Regions from separate parts of the Homo sapiens genome. Here all the other regions are reported to be linked to region 3. The links are microRNA targets in miRTarBase. Many come from high-throughput screens and were not tested one by one. Region 3 holds a microRNA gene; each other region holds the end of a gene's coding sequence.

Evidence for each region. Region 3 holds the annotated microRNA hsa-miR-3122 (GUUGGGACAAGAGGACGGUCUU, at 2,183-2,204, opposite strand). A microRNA usually pairs through its seed, bases 2 to 8, with sites in the 3' UTR of a target mRNA and lowers its output. Matches are read on the target gene's strand: a 7mer-m8 pairs with bases 2 to 8, a 7mer-A1 pairs with bases 2 to 7 and ends in A, and an 8mer does both.
Region 1: the mRNA of PAQR5 is a reported target of hsa-miR-3122. The part of its 3' UTR that is shown has no 7-base or 8-base seed match.
Region 2: miRTarBase lists TMEM11 as a target of hsa-miR-3122. The part of its 3' UTR that is shown has no 7-base or 8-base seed match.
Region 4: miRTarBase lists FOXC1 as a target of hsa-miR-3122. Seed matches in the 3' UTR shown: 7mer-A1 at 1,114-1,120.

The regions. Positions count from the first base shown.
Region 1 is chr15:69,403,253-69,406,386 of GRCh38, reverse strand. PAQR5 (progestin and adipoQ receptor family member 5) reads right to left here. Exons shown (of 9, transcript NM_017705.4): 9 at 1-2,806. The coding sequence ends at 2,565. All of the region lies in intron 1 of KIF23-AS1 (KIF23 and PAQR5 antisense RNA 1), which reads left to right. Among named protein-coding and RNA genes, the nearest start is that of KIF23, 9.5 kb to the left of the region's middle.
Region 2 is chr17:21,195,427-21,198,568 of GRCh38, reverse strand. TMEM11 (transmembrane protein 11) reads left to right here. Exons shown (of 2, transcript NM_003876.3): 2 at 1-615. The coding sequence ends at 245. Among named protein-coding and RNA genes, the nearest start is that of TMEM11, 17 kb to the left of the region's middle.
Region 3 is chr1:212,076,684-212,079,825 of GRCh38, reverse strand. It overlaps MIR3122 (microRNA 3122), which reads right to left and starts at 2,213; the gene lies at 2,141-2,213. It overlaps DTL (denticleless E3 ubiquitin protein ligase adapter), which reads right to left. Exons shown (of 15, transcript NM_016448.4): 12 at 1,564-1,653.
Region 4 is chr6:1,611,553-1,614,694 of GRCh38, forward strand. It overlaps FOXC1 (forkhead box C1), which reads left to right. Exons shown (of 1, transcript NM_001453.3): 1 at 1-2,345. The coding sequence ends at 555. Among named protein-coding and RNA genes, the nearest start is that of FOXC1, 3.2 kb to the left of the region's middle. RefSeq lists enhancers at 2,075-2,692, 2,693-3,142.

The DNA of each region.
Region 1 (3,134 bases), not on the chromosome of region 3:
TGGAAAAGGAACCCCTTCAATGGGTAAAGGGAGGTAAAGTTAACTGAATGGCCTTATTCATCATACACATTCAAGTTTTATCACAGTTGTAAGGTCTGGTAAATTTTTGAGTAGTGCTTCTCAAGCAAGGGGAGTGGGGAGAGGTACATCCCATTAGGAATGTGCCACCCTCCCCACCATAGTCTTTTTTGAGACAATGCCATGGTGAGCAATTGTTACCAATGGGAATGTGTCACATGTCTTAAATGTAGTGAGACACTTTTTAAAAATTAAGACCCACTCCAGTGAGGTCTTCAGCTGACCCCCTGCCAACCTTTTAGACTTTCTGAGATGGCTTGGATGAAATTATACTCACATTAGACATCTAATGCCTATTATTTAATACTTAATGATAATTAATATATTTGAACCCCTTCTCATTTTGCATAGGAAGCTTTCAAATCAGTGTTCTGCAAACTGTCGTAAAATTCTGATTTATAACACTGTCCCCAAAAGTATATAATGGGACTAAAGTTTACCAAACTTATAAAAATGTTATGAAACACTGGATCTTATTTTGTTGATTTAACATTTCATTTCCATCATTAAGCATGTGAAAAAGCAACATAAGCAAAGATTAAATAATCTAAAAATCCTTCAAATTGGTCACTCATTATTTCAGTACTTACTGAGCTAAACATTATTTTGTTACCTATAAAGGAGAGAATGTAAAACACTGTATGTCTTTGGCATTACTAGAAAGGGGTATTTAAACTTTGTACCTTTTTTTGCCATAAAATTGAAGTTACAGTAAGATGAAATGGAAGCTCACAAGCCCTGTTGGTGTGGAATTCCACTAATAATGTCAGATTGTTGCCAGAAAAACAAATTTTGTCATGCAGCTTGCAATTAATGTACCAAAAATTTACCAGCCCATATAATTTTATCAGTCTGCCTTCCCCAGAGGAAGTAAACAGATAATAAAACTAACGAAATCATATTTCTTGACCACTCTCATCCAATATAAATTGTTACTTGTCCTTCGAGTATTAGACAGTGAGCTGTTTACAAGGCCATTCAAATGTCTGGGCTAGTTAATGGTAGAGGCAGTAGTCTAAAATATGGAGTATTCCTGAGTCAGCAAAGAGGATCCTGCATTGTGAGGAAGCCCCCCTAAGTCATTACCAAGTGCAGATCTGGGTTTGATGGGCCTCTGTCAAAAGTTGTTTTGCATCCGCATTTCTGTGTTCCCTGAAAACACCATGAAATACTGAACTTTAATCAGTAATGCAACAAATGAGAAAATGCTCAGTGTTTTAGAACTATTCAGAGTAGAAAACGCTGGAACATAAAATGAGGTTACGCCTTAGTTGGTGAGTTGCTAAAACTTGAGATCAGGCGAAACAAAGCTGATAGGTCTAATGCCTTTTGGAACATGTAACACCAGCAGTTCTTCAAGTTTGGCCTCTGGCCCTCCTGTATTAGAATCATCTGGGAGACTTGCTCCAGTGCAGATCTCCTCTACAAAACCTACATTTAACCTAGTGAAGCAGAACCCCCTGGTTTTCCCTAGGAGTCTGCATTTGTCACAAGCTTACTGGATGTTTCTGATTCACAGTAAAGCTTGAGAACACTATATGTGACCACCCCACTGGCAAGGTGATTAACTTCTTATGCATATGGATACTAAATTTTGCAACATATTTGAAATGCTGAAGCAATATCAAATGTATGACATCCCCAAATATAGCAATTTCCATTGGTTTAAAAGGTGGCATATGAGCACAACCAATTGGGATTAACTCAGTCAACTCTTATGGTTTAACACATTTTACCTGCACTGAAAAATACTTTGCAGATCAAACTGGCAACCAGAAAACAGAACATAACAGAACACATGACACCCCGCTGTGGACTTTTAAGAAAAAAACTGACAAACTCCAAATCCATAATGACATGAGAACTTACACTTTGAAGGCAGAATGGACTTGTGGGAAGAGAGGACTCCCCTTCTGTTCTCCCTTCACTAGGTGGAGAAGGGAAGAAGGGCTCTCCCCAGACAGCTCTCTTCATTCTGGAATGTTTTGCCAGTCCCCAAGGCACTCAGTGACCAACTTTCTTTCACAGGTCCTCCCAGTGACTGACCTGGCTCATTCTCCGAAAGTGGTTGACAGGCCACTACGAGAGCTCTTGAGAGAAGCTTTGTGACATGAAATTCATCAAATGAAGCAAGATTCATTTTTAAAGAATAATACAAAGCTCCAGAGTAATATGCTTAATCCAAATGTTTAAATAGAATTTAAAACCACATTTTAAGTAAATTTAAAATTAATGAAATATCAATAGTTTGCCTTAACAAGGACTTGCTTGAACCATATTCTCCTTTTAAAATCACACACACAGAATCAGTGTACATTTAGAGAAATTTCCCCAGCTGAATAACATTTTTGACATGAATTCATTCAAAAGACACCAACCATTATGAATATTTTAGGCCATGATAAGCTGTAACCACCTCCGGCTTATGGTGGTTAGGATGTTGCAGCTTAATGTTGACATCTGGCATGAAAAGCTTATGGTCTGAGTCATGTTTCTTTTTTATGTAATTCTGGCTTGGGAATCCGATACAGAGCAGCTGAGAAATAAATTATGTTGCTGAGGCTGAAGATGATGCACAGAAGTATGGCTCCAGCTATCTGAGAGAAAGAGAAGGGCTTGGAGGTGGCCAGGAGCCATTCCTTCCTCAGAGTCTTGTCCAGAAGTATGGCTTCCATCTGCATGTGCGTGGCCAGGATCACACACACGTGAAACAGCTGGTGACTGTGACCTATGGCAAACACAAAAGGCCGTCAAGATCAGCAATGAAAAGGAATGAGTACTGATACATGCTATGGCATTCATGCTAAAAATGATGCTAAGTGAAAGAAACCAGACAGGAGACCACATATTATATAAAATCTCCAGAATATGCAAATCCATAAAGACAGAGAGTAGATTAGAGGCTGCCTCAAGCAGGGGGTGAGAATAGGTATTAACAGTGCATGGGTCTGATGGAGGGGATGAAAATGTTCTAAAACTGATGTATGGTGAATTTACTGAAAATATCATTAAATTGTATACTTGACATTAGAGAATTATTGAATATGTGAAATATA
Region 2 (3,142 bases), not on the chromosome of region 3:
GTGTGCTGAGCCTGGCCTGCTGCACCCTCTATGGGATCTCCTGGCAGTTTGACCCTTGCTGCAAGTACCAAGTGGAGTACGACGCCTATAAACTGTCGCGCCTGCCTCTGCACACACTCACCTCCTCCACCCCGGTGGTGCTGGTCCGGAAGGACGACCTGCACAGAAAGAGACTGCACAACACGATAGCACTGGCCGCCCTGGTGTACTGTGTAAAGAAGATTTACGAACTCTATGCCGTATGATTTCAGTAGAACAGGGAGCGAAGCAAAACCACCCGGCCCACAAGAGACAACAGAGTATTCAGATCGCCACACTCTGTGAGGCAGCAGAGCCTGGGCAGGTGTTTGGCTTAGTATTTGTTATTTTTAAAAAATAACAGATCACGGGTGTACCCAGGGTTTTTCAGCTCATTACACTAAGATGTGGATTTCCATAACCCAAGAGGGGGGTCTGAGGCTGTGGAAGTCCGACTGGGCAGTGGAATGCTGATGGAGGCAGACGCTGCCGAGGGGGTGTGGACGTGCTTTGGGGGAGGTCTTTAAGTCTATTGTTTAACTGTACCATCCAGAGCCCACCAGAAGCTATTGATCATTAAAATTATGAGAATTTCAACTCCCGCTGTTCTCTCTTTCCATGACTGCCCGCAGCTGCTGCTGCACATCTGCTCTGGGTGGCGGCTTGCACATGGAAGGAGCAGGTGCCATGGTAGCCACCCTGCCCTGCTCCTAGCTGCGGCCCAGTGTTACCACTTACAGCGACGACAAGCCTAGATCCAAGGTAGTCCTGGGGCCAAACCCCGCCCAGGAGCAGTCTCCTGGCTCACCTTGGCCTCATCATTCCGAAGGCCATCACTGCCACCATGCTGTTCAGGAACATGGTAGGATAAGGTGACGAGGCTTGGAGGCCTTTGGGTGTCCACTTGAGTTCACGTGGGGAACTCTGGGCTCCAGGATCGCTCTTCAGAGATCTGAACACCTGTGTTTTCTTTGAAGCACCAAAACTCTTCCTACTGTGGACCATGAGTTTATTAACCCATTGCCCTAGGCTGACAGAAGAGCCCTCGGAGCAATCTTGGAAGCACCCCCTGGCCTCAGTGCTCGCTGTTCCACAGGAGCCAAGCCGGTGCTTCTCCCTCACACCAGAAGGTAGACTGTGTCACCTGCCACATTTCCTCTAAGGCAGGGGTGGCCAATCTTGACTTCCCTGTGCCACATTGGAAAAAGAATTGTCTTGGACCACACATAAAATACACTAACGACAGCTGATGAGCTAAAAAAAAAAAAAAATCACAAAAAAATAATGTTTCAAGAAAGTTTACAAATTTGTGTTGGGCCACATTCAAAGCCATCGTGGGCTGCATGAGGCCCATGGGCTGCTGATTGGTGATTGGACAAGCTTGCTCTAAGGCTTTGGGTAAATGGGAAATTCTCTCTTCCACAAAAAGGCTGGGGTGCCTGTCTTCACTTCTGCCTTCCTAAAGCCCCATTCATCCCTGAAGAGCCACATGGCACCTCCTTCTGAAGGCCAGTCTTTTGTTTTGTTTTGTTTTGTTTTTGAGACAGAGTCTTGCTGTCACCCAGGACGGAGTGCAGTGATGTGATCTCAGCTCACTGCAACCTCCACCTCCCGAGTACAAGTGATTCTCCTGCCTCAGCCCCGAGTAGCTGGGACTATAGCTGTGTGCTACCATACCTGGATACTTTTTGTATTTTTAGTATAGATGGGATTTCGCCTTGCTGGCCAGGCTGGTCTCTAACTCCTGGCCTCAAGTGATCTGCCCGGTTCGGCCTCCCAAAGTGTTGGGATTACAGGCGTGAGCTGCCGTGCCTGGCCAGGCCAATATTTAAGAGACAGCCAAAGTGGTTTCTCACCTAGTTTTAAAGTCCCCATCAGGAAGACCTGATGTCACAGAGTAATGAAAGGGTGCATGGGAAGGATTCACGAGGGGTGATTGGGCCATTTTTTGTAGGGGAGATTCACACCTCTTAAGGATTTTAAAAGGGACCCACGGCCCACAAAAAGTTTAAGAAACTTTGATTTAATTCCAAGAGATTTAGAAATAACTTATCACTCAGTTGAGTGCTGGGGGCATGACGGTGTTGGGTGTGCACCACTGTTTACGTGGCAGTCTCTGGGCACCTGGAATAATGGTAAAGAGGGAACTGCCTTAGCCACACAACTGATCCCGTAAAAACATGCCTCATCTCGACAGCAGTGTGAGTTGAAATGCAGCTGCCCATGACCCCTCAGGTGTCTGAGTGCTGGCATCTGAGCCTGCTGGGCAGGTTTTTGGTTTTTTTTTTTCTTAATAATGCCCAGGTTTGGAAAGGGAGCCCCATACCTGGCCTGGAAGTGCTCTGCCAACAAGTTAGATTTCATGGGGGAATTGACTAGAAGGCACAAGCTGGACAAGCCAGACAAGTCGAGGCAACCTCAAGTCAGCTGAGCAGGAGCCCTCCCCCGAGGTAGAATCCAGCTGCAAATGGGTAGCTCTTCTACCATTTCCCAAGCTGCACTGAACCAAGTGATTCTTATTGGATGTATTAACCTAGATTCTGAAATGCCATCTTAGTTACATGGCCCCTGGCCAGGGAGATGGGGATGAGGTGCTGGTGTGGACTGCAGGCAGGGGTTTCGTGTGCCTGAGGCTGGCAGCAAGAAATGTGCCTCCCTTCCCACTGTCAGTGCTGACTTCTCTGTTCCTGCCATTGTCCTTGCTAGATGATCAGTCATGGCAGAGCTGCTGACAAGTTGCTTATGGTCATCTGTGATATGCGACAGTACTTCTCAAGAAATAGCATTTGAAGGCTGAGTGCAGTAGCTCATGCCTGTAATCCCAGCACGTTGGGAGGCTGAGGCAGGAGGACCATTAAACACTTGAGTCCAAGAGTTGAAGACCAGTCTGGGCAACATAACAAGACCTGTCTCTACAAAAAAAGACAAAAATTAGCCAGATGTGGTGGTACGCAAATGTGGTCTCAGCTACTCAGGAGTCTGAGGAGGGAGGATCATTCAAGCCTGAGAGGTTGAGAATGCAGTGAGCTGTGATCTTACCACTGCACTTCAGCCTGGGCAACAGAGTGTGACCCTGTCTCCAAAAAATAATTTTTTTTTTTGAGATGGAGTCTCTCTGTTGCCC
Region 3 (3,142 bases):
TGGCAGCTTTTTCCTTTCCTTACTGGGAGGCCAAAAGAAGATACACATATTTAACTGTTCAATATGAAATGTTTGGAATCTCACAGTTCTTCTATAGTTTATTAACAATAGTTATTTGCAGAGCACCTACTATGTGTCTGGTAGTTTACATTCTTTATCTTATTTAATTCTCACACTCTAAAAGCTTTGTACTCAAATAATCTCATATGCAAAATGGGAATAAAGTTATTTGCCCAAAGTAACCACAATCAAATGGAAGAGCTAGAATTTAAACCCAGCTTTCTCCTATTCCAAATGCCAGACATTAAAAACACAAAAACAACACAAACCATATTTTACTTTCCTAATTCTAGGCTTGGGATGAAATTATTTTTAAGACTTAAAAAAGTAGCCAATAAATTAGTATAGGTAAACAGCCCTGCTATTTCCTTTGAGCACAGGAAATAAGGATAATTAATATATGATGTTTGAGATGCATAGGGGTAAGGATAATATATGACAATTGAAAAAAAGATAACATAATTAACTGAATAATTCAAAAATCATTCAACTTAGTAAGTCCCATGAAGATGCAACCCTCCATGTTAAAAGAAATTACATGGAATCTCAGAGGAAAAAATATCATTAATATGTAATTTTGGGTGATTAAAGTAATGACTTAAAAAAAAAGAAAAGGTCTGCCATGAAGTTGAGCACAGAAATGGTAACAATAAGGAGAAATCCACAGCAATACTGGAAGCTAGCAGGGATGCCACAAATAGACCAGACCATGAGAAGTTTCTGGAAGATAAAAAACAGATGGGAACAATAGGCAACAAAACCTCAAAACGTCATACGTGAAAGGGGAGACCTCCACAGAAATAAGATTTCCTGTAGAACCCAGAATAACTCAAAGACCAGAGGCAATGGGGTTTGGGAGAATGACTGGAACTTGAGCTACTATTATATGCAATTCCAATAGATACATAGTTTTTAATGTTTCTGGCCTTTCTACATTTTAGGGTTTTTTTGTTTCTTAAAGTGTCACTATAAAAAAATTAAAAGGTGGGCATATTGTCTTCTTTCTGGAGTATCTAAAACATTTCAGACCTACTTACATAGTTTAAGCAATAGATAACCTAACATGTTAAGACTTCACAGTTACCATTTTGTTAGCCATATGTGAAAACCCAAATTGGGCTGTCAAGATGTTACCTTTAATATACTACATTGATAATATCTAAAAAGTAAAAAAGACTAGTTCTCACCTTAGATTGTATTTTTATCTTAGATTTTAATAGAAAATTTTAATTAAGTTAACAACTTAATCCTACATTTAGGAAAGAAATAACTGTAGGGAACCAGAAATCTATCCTTATTTCACAGGGCATAATACCATTATGGTATGGGTAGAGAAAAGCAGAATATGCCTGAGTAATGTGAATATAGATCCTGGATGGCCTTTAGGTCTTTAAAATCTCAACTTAAACATAAAAATTTATATCATTCTCAAAACAAACCTTAGAAAAACCTACAAACCTGTGATCTACATTTTAAACCAACTATAGAGATTCATTTACAAACCTTTGTGAAGTCAGATGGACACCAGCACACAGACGTGACCTCTTGAGAATGACCCAGGAGCACAGTAGGAGGTTGCCAGGGTGTGGAGACCTAGTCCAATCAAAAACAAACAAGTCAGCAAAGCAATATTAGATTTCCCAGATAGAGGCCTTTGAATTCAGAAGTGTGTCTTAGAGAGCTTTAGGATTGTTACCAAAGGCCACTAGACCTGCCTAGCTATAGTTAGGAAAAAAAAAACAACAGATTTCCAATGGGCAATGAAATATTTCTGTTACTAATCTGAGAAAACACAATGAAAACAGTCAAAATAAGTAAATAACATGAGCTTACACACAAGGATAGTCCTTATTTCATATCAGGACAACCTAGCCATATATATTTTGACTAAAATTCAAGACTGGCATTGTCCCTTATTCCTTAGGTGGTAAACTTTCTGGAAGGATGTTATCCATCCTTAAGTAGTCAACTCGACAACTCAGTCCTGTTTTTACACAGCATATATATCTTCAGATCCCTAGTCAGCTACTTCTAGGAACACTAAATTAACTGTGAAACCTGAAGATTTCTGAAACATGCTACCAGCTCTCTTCGGACAAGATGATGGTCTTCCTTCCAAAAGAAGACCGTCCTCTTGTCCCAACAGAGCTGGTCACTAACTTTTACAAAACCCAAAGTTATACTCCTTCATTTTGAGTTGGATAACCTTCATTCTGAAGGGGTATAAACTATATTTTACATGGCACTTTGGTATCCTTTCTGAAAAACATTTTTTTCCTCTAAAACTATATTTCAGTTAATTTTCTGAGAGAAGTTTTGAATTTTCAAGTAAGTGTCACTCGCATTTTAATATATTTTAATGCAGAAAGAAGGGTCACATTGTACTGTCCTGTACATGTGACTAAGAATCATATTTTTCCATCATCAGATGCCACCAGTTATGTACATTTGACAGCATCATACAGCTGACTCATTCAAGAGATGTCAATCTCTTTCATAGGCCATGGGAATTAATCAGCACAATAACGAGTACAAACACACATAACTATTATTAGCATGTGTGTTTCAAAAGAGCAAGGAGGTTGGGGCTGAGAGAAGTTATTCTCTTTTCATTTTCCTGAGGCTCTGAATCATGGCTCATTTGTATGAAGAAAGTGGAGGTGACTCTGGAATGATTATTTGTGAGAATGACTAAGTAAACTTAATAGATTCCCCCAGATTATGGTTAAGAGATCTGACACACTGACTGATAAGGTTATTCAACTCAATCATTAATACTCCTCTCTTGGCTTAAATGGTACATATGCAATAATTAAAAAAGCAAAAGAAGACAAAGAGCAGAGTCTAACTTGTCTTGCAGAGTTAATTAAAATTTATCAGAAAGGAAGCTTTTTCCACATCTACAGGAATCTCACTTACTGCCTACTCCTACAATGGCACAGAGATAATTCATTCTTTCACAATGTAACATATTTTAGAAAAGACTTTGAAGATCGTCTCTAACTATCCCAGTAGTCACAGAAATTTTCCTTTCCTCCTCTGTTTGGGATGGCCCCAGTCGATTAAGTTTCTCTTCACCCAA
Region 4 (3,142 bases), not on the chromosome of region 3:
AGCGCGGGCAGCTCGGGCGGCGGCGGCGGCGGCGCGGGGGCCGCGGGGGGCGCGGGCGGCGCCGGGACCTACCACTGCAACCTGCAAGCCATGAGCCTGTACGCGGCCGGCGAGCGCGGGGGCCACTTGCAGGGCGCGCCCGGGGGCGCGGGCGGCTCGGCCGTGGACGACCCCCTGCCCGACTACTCTCTGCCTCCGGTCACCAGCAGCAGCTCGTCGTCCCTGAGTCACGGCGGCGGCGGCGGCGGCGGCGGGGGAGGCCAGGAGGCCGGCCACCACCCTGCGGCCCACCAAGGCCGCCTCACCTCGTGGTACCTGAACCAGGCGGGCGGAGACCTGGGCCACTTGGCGAGCGCGGCGGCGGCGGCGGCGGCCGCAGGCTACCCGGGCCAGCAGCAGAACTTCCACTCGGTGCGGGAGATGTTCGAGTCACAGAGGATCGGCTTGAACAACTCTCCAGTGAACGGGAATAGTAGCTGTCAAATGGCCTTCCCTTCCAGCCAGTCTCTGTACCGCACGTCCGGAGCTTTCGTCTACGACTGTAGCAAGTTTTGACACACCCTCAAAGCCGAACTAAATCGAACCCCAAAGCAGGAAAAGCTAAAGGAACCCATCAAGGCAAAATCGAAACTAAAAAAAAAAAATCCAATTAAAAAAAACCCCTGAGAATATTCACCACACCAGCGAACAGAATATCCCTCCAAAAATTCAGCTCACCAGCACCAGCACGAAGAAAACTCTATTTTCTTAACCGATTAATTCAGAGCCACCTCCACTTTGCCTTGTCTAAATAAACAAACCCGTAAACTGTTTTATACAGAGACAGCAAAATCTTGGTTTATTAAAGGACAGTGTTACTCCAGATAACACGTAAGTTTCTTCTTGCTTTTCAGAGACCTGCTTTCCCCTCCTCCCGTCTCCCCTCTCTTGCCTTCTTCCTTGCCTCTCACCTGTAAGATATTATTTTATCCTATGTTGAAGGGAGGGGGAAAGTCCCCGTTTATGAAAGTCGCTTTCTTTTTATTCATGGACTTGTTTTAAAATGTAAATTGCAACATAGTAATTTATTTTTAATTTGTAGTTGGATGTCGTGGACCAAACGCCAGAAAGTGTTCCCAAAACCTGACGTTAAATTGCCTGAAACTTTAAATTGTGCTTTTTTTCTCATTATAAAAAGGGAAACTGTATTAATCTTATTCTATCCTCTTTTCTTTCTTTTTGTTGAACATATTCATTGTTTGTTTATTAATAAATTACCATTCAGTTTGAATGAGACCTATATGTCTGGATACTTTAATAGAGCTTTAATTATTACGAAAAAAGATTTCAGAGATAAAACACTAGAAGTTACCTATTCTCCACCTAAATCTCTGAAAAATGGAGAAACCCTCTGACTAGTCCATGTCAAATTTTACTAAAAGTCTTTTTGTTTAGATTTATTTTCCTGCAGCATCTTCTGCAAAATGTACTATATAGTCAGCTTGCTTTGAGGCTAGTAAAAAGATATTTTTCTAAACAGATTGGAGTTGGCATATAAACAAATACGTTTTCTCACTAATGACAGTCCATGATTCGGAAATTTTAAGCCCATGAATCAGCCGCGGTCTTACCACGGTGATGCCTGTGTGCCGAGAGATGGGACTGTGCGGCCAGATATGCACAGATAAATATTTGGCTTGTGTATTCCATATAAAATTGCAGTGCATATTATACATCCCTGTGAGCCAGATGCTGAATAGATATTTTCCTATTATTTCAGTCCTTTATAAAAGGAAAAATAAACCAGTTTTTAAATGTATGTATATAATTCTCCCCCATTTACAATCCTTCATGTATTACATAGAAGGATTGCTTTTTTAAAAATATACTGCGGGTTGGAAAGGGATATTTAATCTTTGAGAAACTATTTTAGAAAATATGTTTGTAGAACAATTATTTTTGAAAAAGATTTAAAGCAATAACAAGAAGGAAGGCGAGAGGAGCAGAACATTTTGGTCTAGGGTGGTTTCTTTTTAAACCATTTTTTCTTGTTAATTTACAGTTAAACCTAGGGGACAATCCGGATTGGCCCTCCCCCTTTTGTAAATAACCCAGGAAATGTAATAAATTCATTATCTTAGGGTGATCTGCCCTGCCAATCAGACTTTGGGGAGATGGCGATTTGATTACAGACGTTCGGGGGGGTGGGGGGCTTGCAGTTTGTTTTGGAGATAATACAGTTTCCTGCTATCTGCCGCTCCTATCTAGAGGCAACACTTAAGCAGTAATTGCTGTTGCTTGTTGTCAAAATTTGATCATTGTTAAAGGATTGCTGCAAATAAATACACTTTAATTTCAGTCAAAAACTGCTCTACGTGGCCTGTGATTCGCTCGGTCCCCTCCCCCAGGGTCGTAACCTAATCGCCGGGAAGATCGCAGCGGCGCTGGCGCGGGTGTCTCCTCGGGGCAGGCGGGCTGGGGGTGGCCTCACGGCCCCGTTTAAATCTCGCTGGGCTGTCGCGGCGCTAGGTCCCGGGGCTGCCTCCAGCTTCCTCGGGTTACAGCCTCTTTCGGGGCGGGGGAAGGGGAGGGGGTGACGGTAGAGACTCCACCGCCAGTCTCCAGGAGTTTGGTGTGATCGCTCCACTTTGGGGAGCCCGGCGAGGAGCTGGGATTTGCGGACAAAGGGCCCGCGGCCGGAGCTGGGGTGTCGAGGCCCGGAAGGGGAGCTGCAGCAGGTGACTCACGGCCCTGTCCCCACGGGCGGGCTGGCCCAGCCCGAGGCGGAGCAGCTCGGCCGCCGGAGACGGTACCGTTCTCGACGTGTCCGGTCGGACTCTGTGGAGTAGGGGGTGGCGGGTGGAGACCCGCGCGGCCCACGCCTGGCTTTCCGGCTGGGGCGTTTCTCGCAGGCCCGGTCCCTTCCGAGTCGCGCCCGCCCCGACGCCGGCCTCCTGGACGCCGCTCGCGACGGCAACGCTCTCCAGCTAATGAGCTGTAATTACCCGCGGCGGCGCGGGGCCCGGCTTCGGTTTGCGTTTGGAGCTCCTTCCTCCCCACACCCCCCTCCCCAGATTAGCCCCGGCCTCCGCGGCCTCCTCCTGAAATTAGTCGTTGGAGAAAAGCGAGTCAAAGGGAGACCCCTGTTAGTTTCGCTGGGTTC